Linked DNA regions of Homo sapiens. The protein of the gene in region 1 purifies or fractionates together with the protein of each later gene. This does not show direct contact. Each region holds a gene or a part of one and is shown on either strand. Other genes may lie near its edges.

Region 1 (3,749 bases):
ATAGATCATCATATCTCAAATAATTAAATTCACTTGAGGGTCAGAAAAAAACAGATTCTTTGTGTAGAATCATTTACTGAAGAATTTAAAGGATTTTTCCTTGGGCTATCTCAGTCAGATTGGAACAGCTAGAGCCAGGGAAAATATTTCATAACGAGTCTTCTTGGTATATTAAAGTGCACATAACAGAGCGAGAAACTTTGAAAAATAACTTCAATATCCATAATCCTATAATTCCAAGGCATTTTTCATTTTTTCTTTTTCCTTTAGGAAGGTGGTTTTTTAAAGGGACTTTTGTTTTTAACTAAATGAGCTTAAAATAATGTGATTAGAAACCACTGTAGGCTGGGCACGGTGGTTCATGCCTGCAATCCCAGCACTTTGGGAGGCCGAGACAGGCAGATCACCTGAGGTCAGGAGTTCAAGACCAGCCTGGGCAATATGGCGAAACCCCGTCTTTACTAACAATACAAAAAATTAGCTGGGCGTGGTGGCAGGTGCCTATAGTTCCAGCTACTCAGGAGGCTGAGGCACGAGAATCACTTGAACCCGGGAGGCGGAGGTTGCAGTGAGCCAAGATCCATGCCACTGCTCCCCAGCTTGGGCGAGAGTGAGACTCTGTCTCAAAAAAAAAAAAAAAGAAAAGAAAAGAAAAGAAAAAACCACCGTACGGTGGCTCACGCCTGTAATCCCAGCACTTTGGGAGGCCGAGGCGGGCAGATCACGAGGTCAGGAGATCGAGACCATCCTGGCTAACATGGTGAAACCCCGTCTCTACTAAAAATACAAAAAATTAGCCAGGCGTGGTGGCGGGCACCTGTACTCCCAGCTACTCGGGAGGCTGAGGCAGGAGAATGGCGTGAACCCGGGAGGCGGAGCTTGCAGTGTGCCGAGGTCGCACCACTGTACTCCAGCCTGGGTGACAGAGCGAGACTCCATCTCCAAAAACAAAACAAAACAAAAAAACACTGTAGCACTGTAGCTTTTGGTTATCACACCAATGAATTCATATCTGAAATTAGAATAAGAAAATCACCAAGAGGACTATTTCATATATTCGGCTCAGGAGTTTTGTTTTTAGGAAACAAAAATCCCCACCACCTGCTGTTTTCTTGCTTTCTCTATCCCCTCCCCCACGATCACAGGGTCAGTGAAACCTGATCAGAAGTGTCCAGATACCGCTGTCCCAGAAGCCACTTTAAAGACTCTTTGGGCAGAAGCTCTGTGGCTTCCACCCCTCTTCCCAACCCTTGCACCCACCGGCAGGAGAACTCACCATGCAGAAGCAGGACCAACATCCCTCGGCCTTTCATCCACCCAGTGGCTTAGGACCACCCAGCCGTGGGACCCCTACCTGAGGGGAGAAAGGACAGGTCACCCAGTGCCCAGGAGGGCCCCATGAGAACCCTCCCATGCCTCCACACTTCTTCCTGAATGCCCTGCCTTTCTTTCTTCCTCACATTCCTTCCTTCTTAATGACCCTGGTGTTGGGCTAAGGGAAACCAGTAACAACAGAAAATCAGAAGCTCCCCACAAATGGACAGTTTGGATCTATTAGGAAACCCTTTGTCAGGCTACAGCCCTGACAGCAACTCAGATGGCATCACTGACAACCCAGCAAGGAAATGGATGGAGAGGAAACCCCTGCAGAGAAGCGTTAGTGAATGGTCCTCAAATGTTGCTTACCGTCCTGGGAGTCTCCCTGGTCCTGCTCCTCTGAGGTCCCCCTCCACTCCCTCAGCCCATCCATCTCCCAAGTCAGGCAGCCACAGATGCTGAAAATGGTTTGAGAGAGAAGTAAAGGTGGGGGTGGGGGGACGGGAGGAAGGGGTGAAGAGGAATAGTTACTTGTGCAGGTTTGAGTGCTTATTTTTCTTTCTCCAGATTTAATGGCAGGAAAATCCTCTGTATCACATGAGGATTAACAGAGATGAAAGAATGTGTCTGCCTTTCGAATCACTAAAGCCAGTGACAGATTTTGCTGACATACCAATCGGCTTTATCCCCGGGCCTTGACCACCCTGGCCCTCCTGTCCTCTCTCCATCTGCCTGGCCCCTTTCTCTCCTTAAACCTTCCCCAGACCCTGCCCCGTTCCCTGACCCCAGCCCCAGCCCCAAGCAATATGTAGCCTGAAATTGGCTTCCTGCCACCCAAACAGCATTATCAGCATTTTCAACAAGGACGCATTATATAACTTGGAGAGCTGGAGAAGGGACAGGACAGCTTAAAATGTTTCCCCAAAATGCCGGCTGCTGATTTCCTTTCTTTGAAGTGGTTGATGGTGAATGATACAAAAACGGACTGGAGAGAGTCCTTCCACTACAAGAAGGCAAGAGGTTCCCACTGGGGTTAGGGCTGGTAGTGGTGGCCTAAGGCAGTGGGTCCAGGAATGGGACCTTCAGAATCTGGCTGAGGTTTCTGAAACCCACCAGGACTCAGTTTAGGCCCTGGCTACTCAGTGTGGCCGGTGGACCAGCAGCAGTACCTGAGAGCTCGTTAGGAAAACAGAATCTCAGCGCCTTCTACCCCCCGCCCCAGACCTGTTGAATCAGCATCTGCTTTTTTTTTTTTTTTTTTTTTTTTGAGATGGAGTCTCACTCTGTCGCCCAGGCTGGAGTGCAGTGGCACAATCTTGGCTCACTGCAACCTCCACCTTCTGGGTTCAAGCGATTCCCCTGCCTCAGCTTCCTGAGTAGCTGGGACTACACCATGCCCAGCTAATTTTTTGTATTTTTAGTAGAGACGGGGTTTCACCATGTTGACCAGGATGGTCTTGATCTCTTGACCTTGTGATCCACCCGCCTCGGCCTCCCAGAGTGCTGGGATTACAGGCGTGAACCACCGCGCCCGGCCAGCATCTGCATTTTAACTAGGTCGGCGGAGAGGGGGATTCCTGTGCCCGGTAAAGTTTGGAAAGCCCTGTTTTAGGAGACTGGTGGAGGGGGTCTGATCAAAATGAGGGTGGCAGGGGGGCCTGTTTATCTAGCCTTTCTGGCCAGCAGTTCAGGTGCCCCCACATTCTCCTGGCCCCAGCAAGCCTCTGCTGTCTGCTGGGACAGCACTTCCAGGTATCCATGGCAACCTGCCAAGTTCTGGCCACGCAGGACTTGGTGAGCCAGTGCTGATGAAAGGAAGCCAGGAGTTCCCTTCCCACAGAAAGGGTTCTGGATGTGAATCTAGACATCTCAGGCCACCGTGCCCTGGGGAATTTTTGTTTTCTTCCATTTGAGCCTTGAAAGCCAAAATGTGGCTGAACTTGTCTAACCTGCTGGAAAGAAGAGAATACTAGGGATGGGGTAGGGATGTGGGTGGGGGAGGCCTCTCAAATGACATCTCTATCCCCAGTGTTGGACTCGCCTGGCTTATTAGATGAGAGCAGTGGGCAGCCCTCTCATTGTGACCACCAGTGTCGGAGGTGTCCCTGTAGCCATCACCCCAAGCCTTAGCCCAACGAAGCCCCCACTCCCCCAGCAGCAGTCCAGAGGCTGAATCTCGACTGTAAGAGCCAACCTGTCTGCACCCACAACCTTTGTTCGCAGCTTATTGGTCCAACCTTCCCTTCAATCTTCTCCAGGCCAGTGGGCCTGGTGCTCTGGCACTGGGATCCCACTAAGGAAGACCTTCTTCTCCACCTGTGAACTGAAACATTTCTCCCAAGTGGAAAATAAGGAGGCATCAGAGACTCTTGGCATAAAAAGGAAGGAGCCCATCCACCAGGTGAGCTGGTACCACCGACTTGGGAGGATGA
Region 2 (3,749 bases), on another chromosome or scaffold:
GAGGAGCCGTGGGGCAGAGATGAGACTTAGTACACTGTGGTGAGCTAGCATGTCTTTGATATTATGGGTTGAATAAACTGTTAGGTTGGCATGGAGAGATAGTTTTAGGCTTTCAAGGATGAAGACAGCAGCTGCCTCCAGTGCTTGGAGGCAGGCAGACCATCTGAGAACTGTGGCTTCAAGCTGTTTGGAGAGGTAGGCGATAACCTGGAGGGTGGGTCTCTTAGACTGGGTTAGAACACCTAGTGCAACTCTACACGTTCGTTGGTATAGAGGGAGAAAGGTTTGGTGAGGTCTGGGAGAGTGAGGATGGGGGCTGAGATGAGAGTCTTCTGGAGTAGATGGAAAGGTTGGGTAATAGGCTATGCAGGGTTTGAAGGCTCATGGAGAGGGCCTTTAGTGTCTTGGTATAATGGTTTGGCAAGTAGAGCAAAGGAGGGAACCCAGAGCCTAACATATCCCACTAGTCCTAGGAAAGAGAATTTCTTGCTTAGTTTGCAGAGGTGGGAGAGACTGGAGGAGGGATATGTGGTCGGTTGTGAGCCCTCGGGTTCATGGGGTAAGAGCCAGGCCTAGATAAGTGACTAAGGGGGCTCATATTTGTGCTTTCTTAGGGGAGACCCGATACCTCCGTTCTGCCAAGAAGTTTAAAAGAGAGAGATAGCATGGGCGTTGCAGTCTCTTTGAGAGGGGCTACACAGGAGCAGATCATTAACACATTGAAGGAGAGTGGACGGTTTTAGGGATAAGGTACAGAGGTCATGAGCAAGGGCCTGTCCAAAAAGATGGGGGCTGTCTCTGAAACCTTGAGGTAGTACGCACCAGGTGAGCTGATGTGAAAGGTGGGTGTCGGGGTTTTCCCATGTAAAGGCAAAGAGGTTTTGGGAATCAGGGTGTAAAGGAATTGTGGAAAAAAGCATCCTTTAGGTATAGAACAGGAAAATGGGTGGTATTGGAGGGAATTGCAGAAAGTAAAGTATATGGGTTAGGAACTACTGGACATACTGGGAGTACAGCTTGGTTAATGAGCCTGAGGTCCTGGACTAAGTGATAAGTTCCATCTGGCTTTTAAACAGGTAGAACTGGTGTGTTAAAAGGAGAGTTTCTTGGGTGGAGTAGGTGACTGGTGAGGCGGCGAGAAATGATAGGCTTTAGGCCTATGAGAGCTGCTTGGGGGATGGGATACTGCTTCTGTGATAGGAACTGGGTGGACTCTTTAAGGGTAATGCGGACGGGGGTGTGGTGTTTTGCGACTGAAGGTGTGGAAATATTCTAAACAGCGGGGTTAACTACGGATGGGGGATAAGGTAAAGTTGCATGTTTTAAGGTGGCAGGTTGGAGGAGTAGAAGAAAGTTAGATGCCCCGAGGGGTCTGGGTTGATGCGTTGGGTACTATGGGGAATGTGCAAGTGGAGAGTAGTGTGGAGTTTTGAAAGGATGTCTCTGGTATGAGGGCAGGACTAAGAAAGGGTGACTGAAGGAAAAGGTGTGCAGGGAGCAGAAAAGTGGAGGGGTGGCTCAGGGTTTGGAGTCTTGTCTGTCAATTCCCACAACGGAGAAAAGGGAGGACTGGGTGTGTCCTGAAAAATTAGGTAAAGCAGAGTAGTTTGCCCGGTATTAATTAAAAAAAAAATACTGGCCTACCTGCCACCATCAGGGTTACCCTTGGCTCGGATGAAGCGATGGTAGTTGCCGGGGCATCCATTCCAGGGCACCATCAATCTTCAGCGGCAAGGCCAATGAGATCCAAGTAGGAGGTTTTGGCCGGCTTAGGAAGTGATGGGGCCGCCCTTGCAGGGGCCGCTCACAGTCCAATTTCCATTGGGGTCCTCTGCAGAGGGGGCATGGCCTGGTGGGCTTACCTGGATTTGGGCATTGTCTGGACCAGTGGCCTTCATTGCCGCACTTGAAAAGGTGCCAAGTGGAGGTAGGTTGCTAGGAGGCTTCCGTGTGGAGCTGCGGACCCGTGGGCCTGCAGGGCCCCTGATGGCGGAGGCAAGCATTTGAAACTCCGCCTGTTTTTGCCTTTTACTTTCCCTATCACGATTGTTAAAGACTATGAAGGCTAAATTAAGACGGTCTTGTGAGGTTTGAGGGCCATCATCAAGCTTCTGAAGCTTGCACCGAATATCGGGGGTGGATTGGGAGATGAACCGAAGGTTTAAGATAATGGTTCGTTCTGAGGGTTTGAAGGGGGAAGGAGGGTTAACAGGCAGTGGAGGATAGGCAGGGGCGTAAGGTGGCGGGATGAGTTTACAAGCTTTAGGAGAGGGCAGTGGGGGAGGAGAATGGGTACAGGCAATACTAGAATTGTCCCGAGGAGGGGATGGTGTAGGAAAAGAAGTGGATACAGCTGACTGGGAAGATGGCAGCTGGGAAGATGGCAGCTGAGAAGACAACGAGGAGGCTTGGGGGGTTAAAAAAGATGGTTGAGAGGAAAAGGTAGGGGTTGGGAGGGGTGGATAGCAGTCAGTTGGATCGAACGAGAAAAATGAGGTAGGGTCGGGAGGAGAAAGGCGATCAGGGCGGTGAGAATGGAGGGGAAGGATTTGAACAGGTAAGCAAGAATTGCAGAGGTTGGGTTGTGAACTGAGTGCAAAAAGGCCTGGACATAAGGAATTTCTTCCCATTTTTCCAGTCGTCGGCAATAATTGCTTAAGTCAGTTAAAATTGTAAAGTTGAATGTTCTATTTGCAGGCCATTTGGACCCATTATTTAATTTGTACTGTGGCCAGGCTGTATTGCAAAAAAGACAGGTACTTAGAGCGAATATCTTGCCTGAGGCCTAAGGTTTGCAGGTTTTTTATGAAGCAGCCTAGAGGGCTGTTGTTTGGAATGGAGGACCGGAGTTTCCCATAACAGAGGGTAGGCTCAGGAGAACAGGGAAAAAGGAGACCATCCTGGAGGGAGATGATAAAAGGAGCAACTGTCACCGCTGCCTTTTTCGTTCCTGGAACACGATCAAATGGCTTAGAGGCATCCCCCTAAGACCAGATGATCAGCGAGTGCCTGGCACACGCCGGCGCCTTCTTGGACCAACACTGGATATTCGGACCAGAGAAACTAAGAGAGGCCGTGTGAATTTTCCCTGCTAACTGGGCCCCTGAGGAAACTTACCAGTAAGCAAGATCAGTGACCAATGTGCATGCACAGAGAGGCAACTGGAGATCGAGGAGCTTCCTTTGTCTGGCTGCTGTGGCCTGCTGTCTGGGGTGGAGGGGTAGGTTCACAGGGGACGTGGACCAGAACCTCTCCCGGGTTTCAGCACCAGATGTACGGTTCTTGTATCGGTTGGAACCCTGAGAGCGCACCAACAGACAACATGAGGTGGTGAGGAGCAACATGCTGTTTTGATGAGCGCGTGGGTGCAGGTGGGCTGAGGCCTAAAATGGCATCAGCCCCAAGTGAGGATGGGACAAAGGTTTTATAGTCTCCTGTAAACAGGAAGTGTCCTAGTCTGACATAATTGCTCTGTTGTACCTGGATGGCCTCTTTCTCAATCTTCAGGGGTACGTATTTTCCGGCCGGCTCTCTTCCTGCTTCTGCTATCTTGCTGGTGCACACTGCTGGTACAAGTAGCCTTGTGCCTTGGGACTGGGCCTGAGAAGGGATGAGTTGTTCATCTCCTTAAGCTTTCAGGTCCCAGGGAGAATCTTACACTATTCATCCCTGCTCTGAGATGTCAGGGAAATCTACAGGTGTCTTCTGAAATCCAAAGTCCATTCTAAGCTTGTTTTATAAGAGCGACA
Region 3 (3,749 bases), on another chromosome or scaffold:
ATTCATAAGTTAACTCCATATGTTTAAGACGCACAACATTAATGATAAAAATAAGATCCATTGTATCATTTTTATATAGGGGTGTTGGCCTCATGTTAGTGTGGCCTTCTGTTTCTGTAAGGATTCTGGATGTTTAATAGACATTTTGGGTTGCATCATGAAGCTTTATTGACTTTTATGGTGAAATTATTACAGGGCAGGTGAATCCGAACATTGGGGTTTAGCCCGAGAAGGTTGGCTCAGGAAAGAATTCAAGAGTGAGCTGGTGGTAGAAAAATCAGCTTTATTGAGGCAGGGTTGTTACAGCTCTGTGACTTCTCCTTCAGAGCAGGGGTACCCCTGGGCAGTGTGTCAAGAGTAGCAGCTCAGGGCCAGTTCTGCAGCCATGTTTATACTACTTTTAATTATGTGCAAATTAAGGGACAAGGTATTCAGAAATTTCTAGAAAACAGAAGGTAACTTCTGGGTCATTGCCATGGAAAGGGATGGTAACTTCTGGGTGTAGCCATGGCAATGGTAAACTGTCATGGTGCTGGTGGGTGTGTCTTACGGAGAGGATCTTTCGTTGCCTCTTCCTTGTTTCTGTCAGTCTTCAATCTGGTCCAGAGTCACATTCCACCTCCTACCTCATTATGAATAATGAAAAGTCAGGCTGATAGGGCTCTGTATTTTCTATCTTGGCTTCTGTCAGAGTTGTCCCATCGAATCCGTCGTATATGTCACAGTTCACTTAACTGTGTTTAGTAAGGGTTTCTATCTTTAAAGCATGTTTGGAAACACTATCCTATGCAATAAATTTTAATTGGCTTCTTCCATATTTTCTTTTTCTTAATAAAGAACAAAGCAGACTTTTATTTCTAGTGAAATGGTTTACAAGATTGGGTCCTGAATAGACCCAAGAAAATCTAAATGTCATTTCTCTGAAGACTGCAAATTGTTGAAAGGCCCATATACTTTAAAAATGTTACCTATGAAAATAAGAAATTATTTAGACAGGTATAAATTACTATATGGTTTTAAGAACAGTCTTGAAAATACGTTTCAAAAACAACAAATTGTTATCGTTTTAGAAATGCAGATGTCATAGATGTTTTTGCAGCACTCTAAAGCAGCAAAAATGCATTGCAGTTGTGCAGTATTAAGGAAGTTGAAACATCGTTGACTGAGCTCACATTAGTTTGTTGGCTAACCACAAAATATGTAAAAAGGTAGAGCTTTTTGCATGTTTTTGATGCTGTGATTTCTTGACAGGAAGGAAAGCAAACTGCAGAAGCACAGCAAACTGCAGAAGCACCTGCAAAGTATTATAGGAAACAGTGAGACAACGATTAGGGCTTGGAGGATGGCCTACCATTAAGAAAAACTGTGTTGCACTTTAAGTTATGTAAAACTATGTTTAGTTGAAAATGTGTATTTTTAAAATATTTTGATTGCACTGTTCATTTTATCATCGCATTCATATTGGTATATAGCTACACTGTACATTTCTTTAATCTTCTATTAATATTTTCTTTTATTTAAAATCTTGTTTCAACAGTTTGAAGGTGATGAAGTTAATTCCATTGTAATGAGAATTTAATATGTTTGAGAGTTGGTATATTCTGTTGGTTATCACAGTCTGGACTCAGGCATACCTAAATCTGAGATTCAGTGTTGCCTTTGTCTTGATGTGTAATCTTAGACAAAATAGCCTCTCTTTGCCTCATCTCTAAAGTTGGAATTGTAGCAGTGATACTTACCTCATAAAGCTGTTGTGAAGATTAAATTATTTAATCAACATATAACCCTTAGCACCATATATGATAGTTTTTATAATATTCCCCAGTGAGATAATGGTGAGAAGAAGTAAGTGGGCATTTATTAATTGCTATATTATATTACTGTTGACGTTTCTTATGATAGAACTTTTTACAATCTCATGGAATATTATTGTCCCACCTTACAAATAAGGAAACTGATGTCTAATACAAAGATACTTTGATTTGCACATGCAAGGTATAGAATCAAGGCAGTTAAACAATTTGAGTTTTGCTTAAATTGCTCCAACCAAAGTTGTCCTTTGGTTGGAGCAAGAGAAGCTGGCCAAGAGAAATTAGATAATTTACCTGGTCTTGGTGAAAGATAATGAAGGCCAATAATAGGAGGGTTGGATAAAACTGGGCAAATTTGTTTGACATTTTAGCGGTAGAATCAACTAAATACTACTGCATGTGATTCAGTGTTATAGGTCAGCACAAGGGAATATTAATGGATCTCTTGGATATTTTGAGTTTGAAGTTCTCATGGGATATCCAGATTTAGATGCTCCGTAGACACCTGGAGCTGTAAAATAAAAAAACGACTTCAGTGGAGGTTCTAATTTTGCAAGTAAAGAGCATTAGAGTTAATAGTTGAATCCAACAAAGAAGTGCCAAATTGAGAAGTAAAGAGACCAGAGAGCAAAATCCTGATGGGCACCAACATTTAAAAGGTAGTTGGAATAATTTGGTGTGGCTAGCAAAATGTTTAAAATATACTAGGATAGTGAAATAGAGCACAGTAAAGGGAACTGCAAGGAATAAGGTAGTCTCTGGCAATATATGTATTCTAGAGACATCAAATATTATTTTTCTTTTTGAGCATTAAATTCAATTCAGCAATTTTGCAATTTTACAAGCAGTTATTTCAAGCATGTGCTCACAAAGCACTTTGCACGAGCTGTACTTCACTATCTGCAAACCTTGCATCTGGTCCTTGCTTATGGAAGCATTTCGTAAAGTTTCAAATGTAATTAAAAGTGATAGAATTTTTTTTTTTTTTTTTTTTTTTTTTTTGCCTGAGACAGGGCCCTGCTTTATCACCTTGCCTGGCGTGCAGTAGTGCCACCTTAGCTCACTGCAGCCTCAACTCTCGGGCTCAAGAGATCTTCCCACCTCTACCTGAGACTAGATGGGACCACAGGCATGCACTACCAAGCCTGGCTAATTTTTTCTTTTTTTTTGTGGAGATGAGGTCTCACCATGTTGGCCAGGCTGGTCTGGAATGCCTGTGCTCAAGCAATCCCACACACCTCAGTCTCCCAAATTACTGGGATCACAGGCATGAACCATTGCACCTGACCATTTTATTTGAGTTGTATTATTTTTCTTTCTACATTTTGGCTCTGCATTCTACATTTCATCATACTATACCATTATTGAGAATGAGAAGAGCTTGAGAAATTTGTTTATATGATATACTACCGTCTTCCAAACACAACTCCTTCTCTTCCCCTTAAGAGTAATTACCACTATTCTGATTTTTATGCAGTCACTTTCTTGCTTTTCTGTATTGCTTTATTACCCAGGTATGCATCCCTAAATATTACAGTTCAGTTTTGCTTTTCTTTTAATAGTATTTTTTGAGTATCTTATAATCTTCAGGTGCCCCAAACATAGCACCTGACGTCCGATACAAAGACATCTCTCTCCCTTTTAAAATTTGTCTATTGAAAAAACCAGGCCAGGTGCGGTGGCTCATCACTTTGGGAGTCCAAGGCAGGCAGATCGCCTGAGGTCAGGAGTTTGAGACTAGCCTGGCCAACATGGTGAAACCCCATCTCTGCTAAAAATACAAAAAAATTAGCCAGGCATGGTGGCAGGCGCCTGTAATCCCAGCTACTTGGGAGGCTGAGGCAGGAGAATCGCTTGAATCCGGGAGGCGGAGGTTGCAGTGAGCTGAGACGACACCATTGTACTCCAGCCTGGGCAACGAGGCTCCATCTCAAAAAA

Evidence for each region.
Region 2: the proteins of NYX (region 1) and COX16 purify together in Homo sapiens (affinity purification with mass spectrometry; 2 studies listed by BioGRID and IntAct, with this or other methods). This does not show direct contact.
Region 3: the proteins of NYX (region 1) and EMB purify together in Homo sapiens (affinity purification with mass spectrometry; 3 studies listed by BioGRID and IntAct, with this or other methods). This does not show direct contact.

What each region holds. Positions count from the first base shown.
Region 1 is NC_000023.11:41,445,454-41,449,202, reverse strand, and holds the start of NYX (nyctalopin precursor), read right to left. Parts: upstream 1,861-3,749; 5' UTR 1,687-1,860; exon of another isoform or gene 1,355-1,686; 5' UTR 1,299-1,354; coding exon 1,277-1,298; intron 1-1,276.
Region 2 is NC_000014.9:70,344,562-70,348,310, reverse strand, and holds part of COX16 (cytochrome c oxidase assembly protein COX16 homolog, mitochondrial isoform 1 precursor), read left to right. Parts: exon of another isoform or gene 1-1,983; intron 1,984-3,117; exon of another isoform or gene 3,118-3,176; intron 3,177-3,749.
Region 3 is NC_000005.10:50,413,593-50,417,341, reverse strand, and holds part of EMB (embigin precursor), read left to right. Parts: intron 1-3,749. UniProt on the Homo sapiens protein: Plays a role in the outgrowth of motoneurons and in the formation of neuromuscular junctions.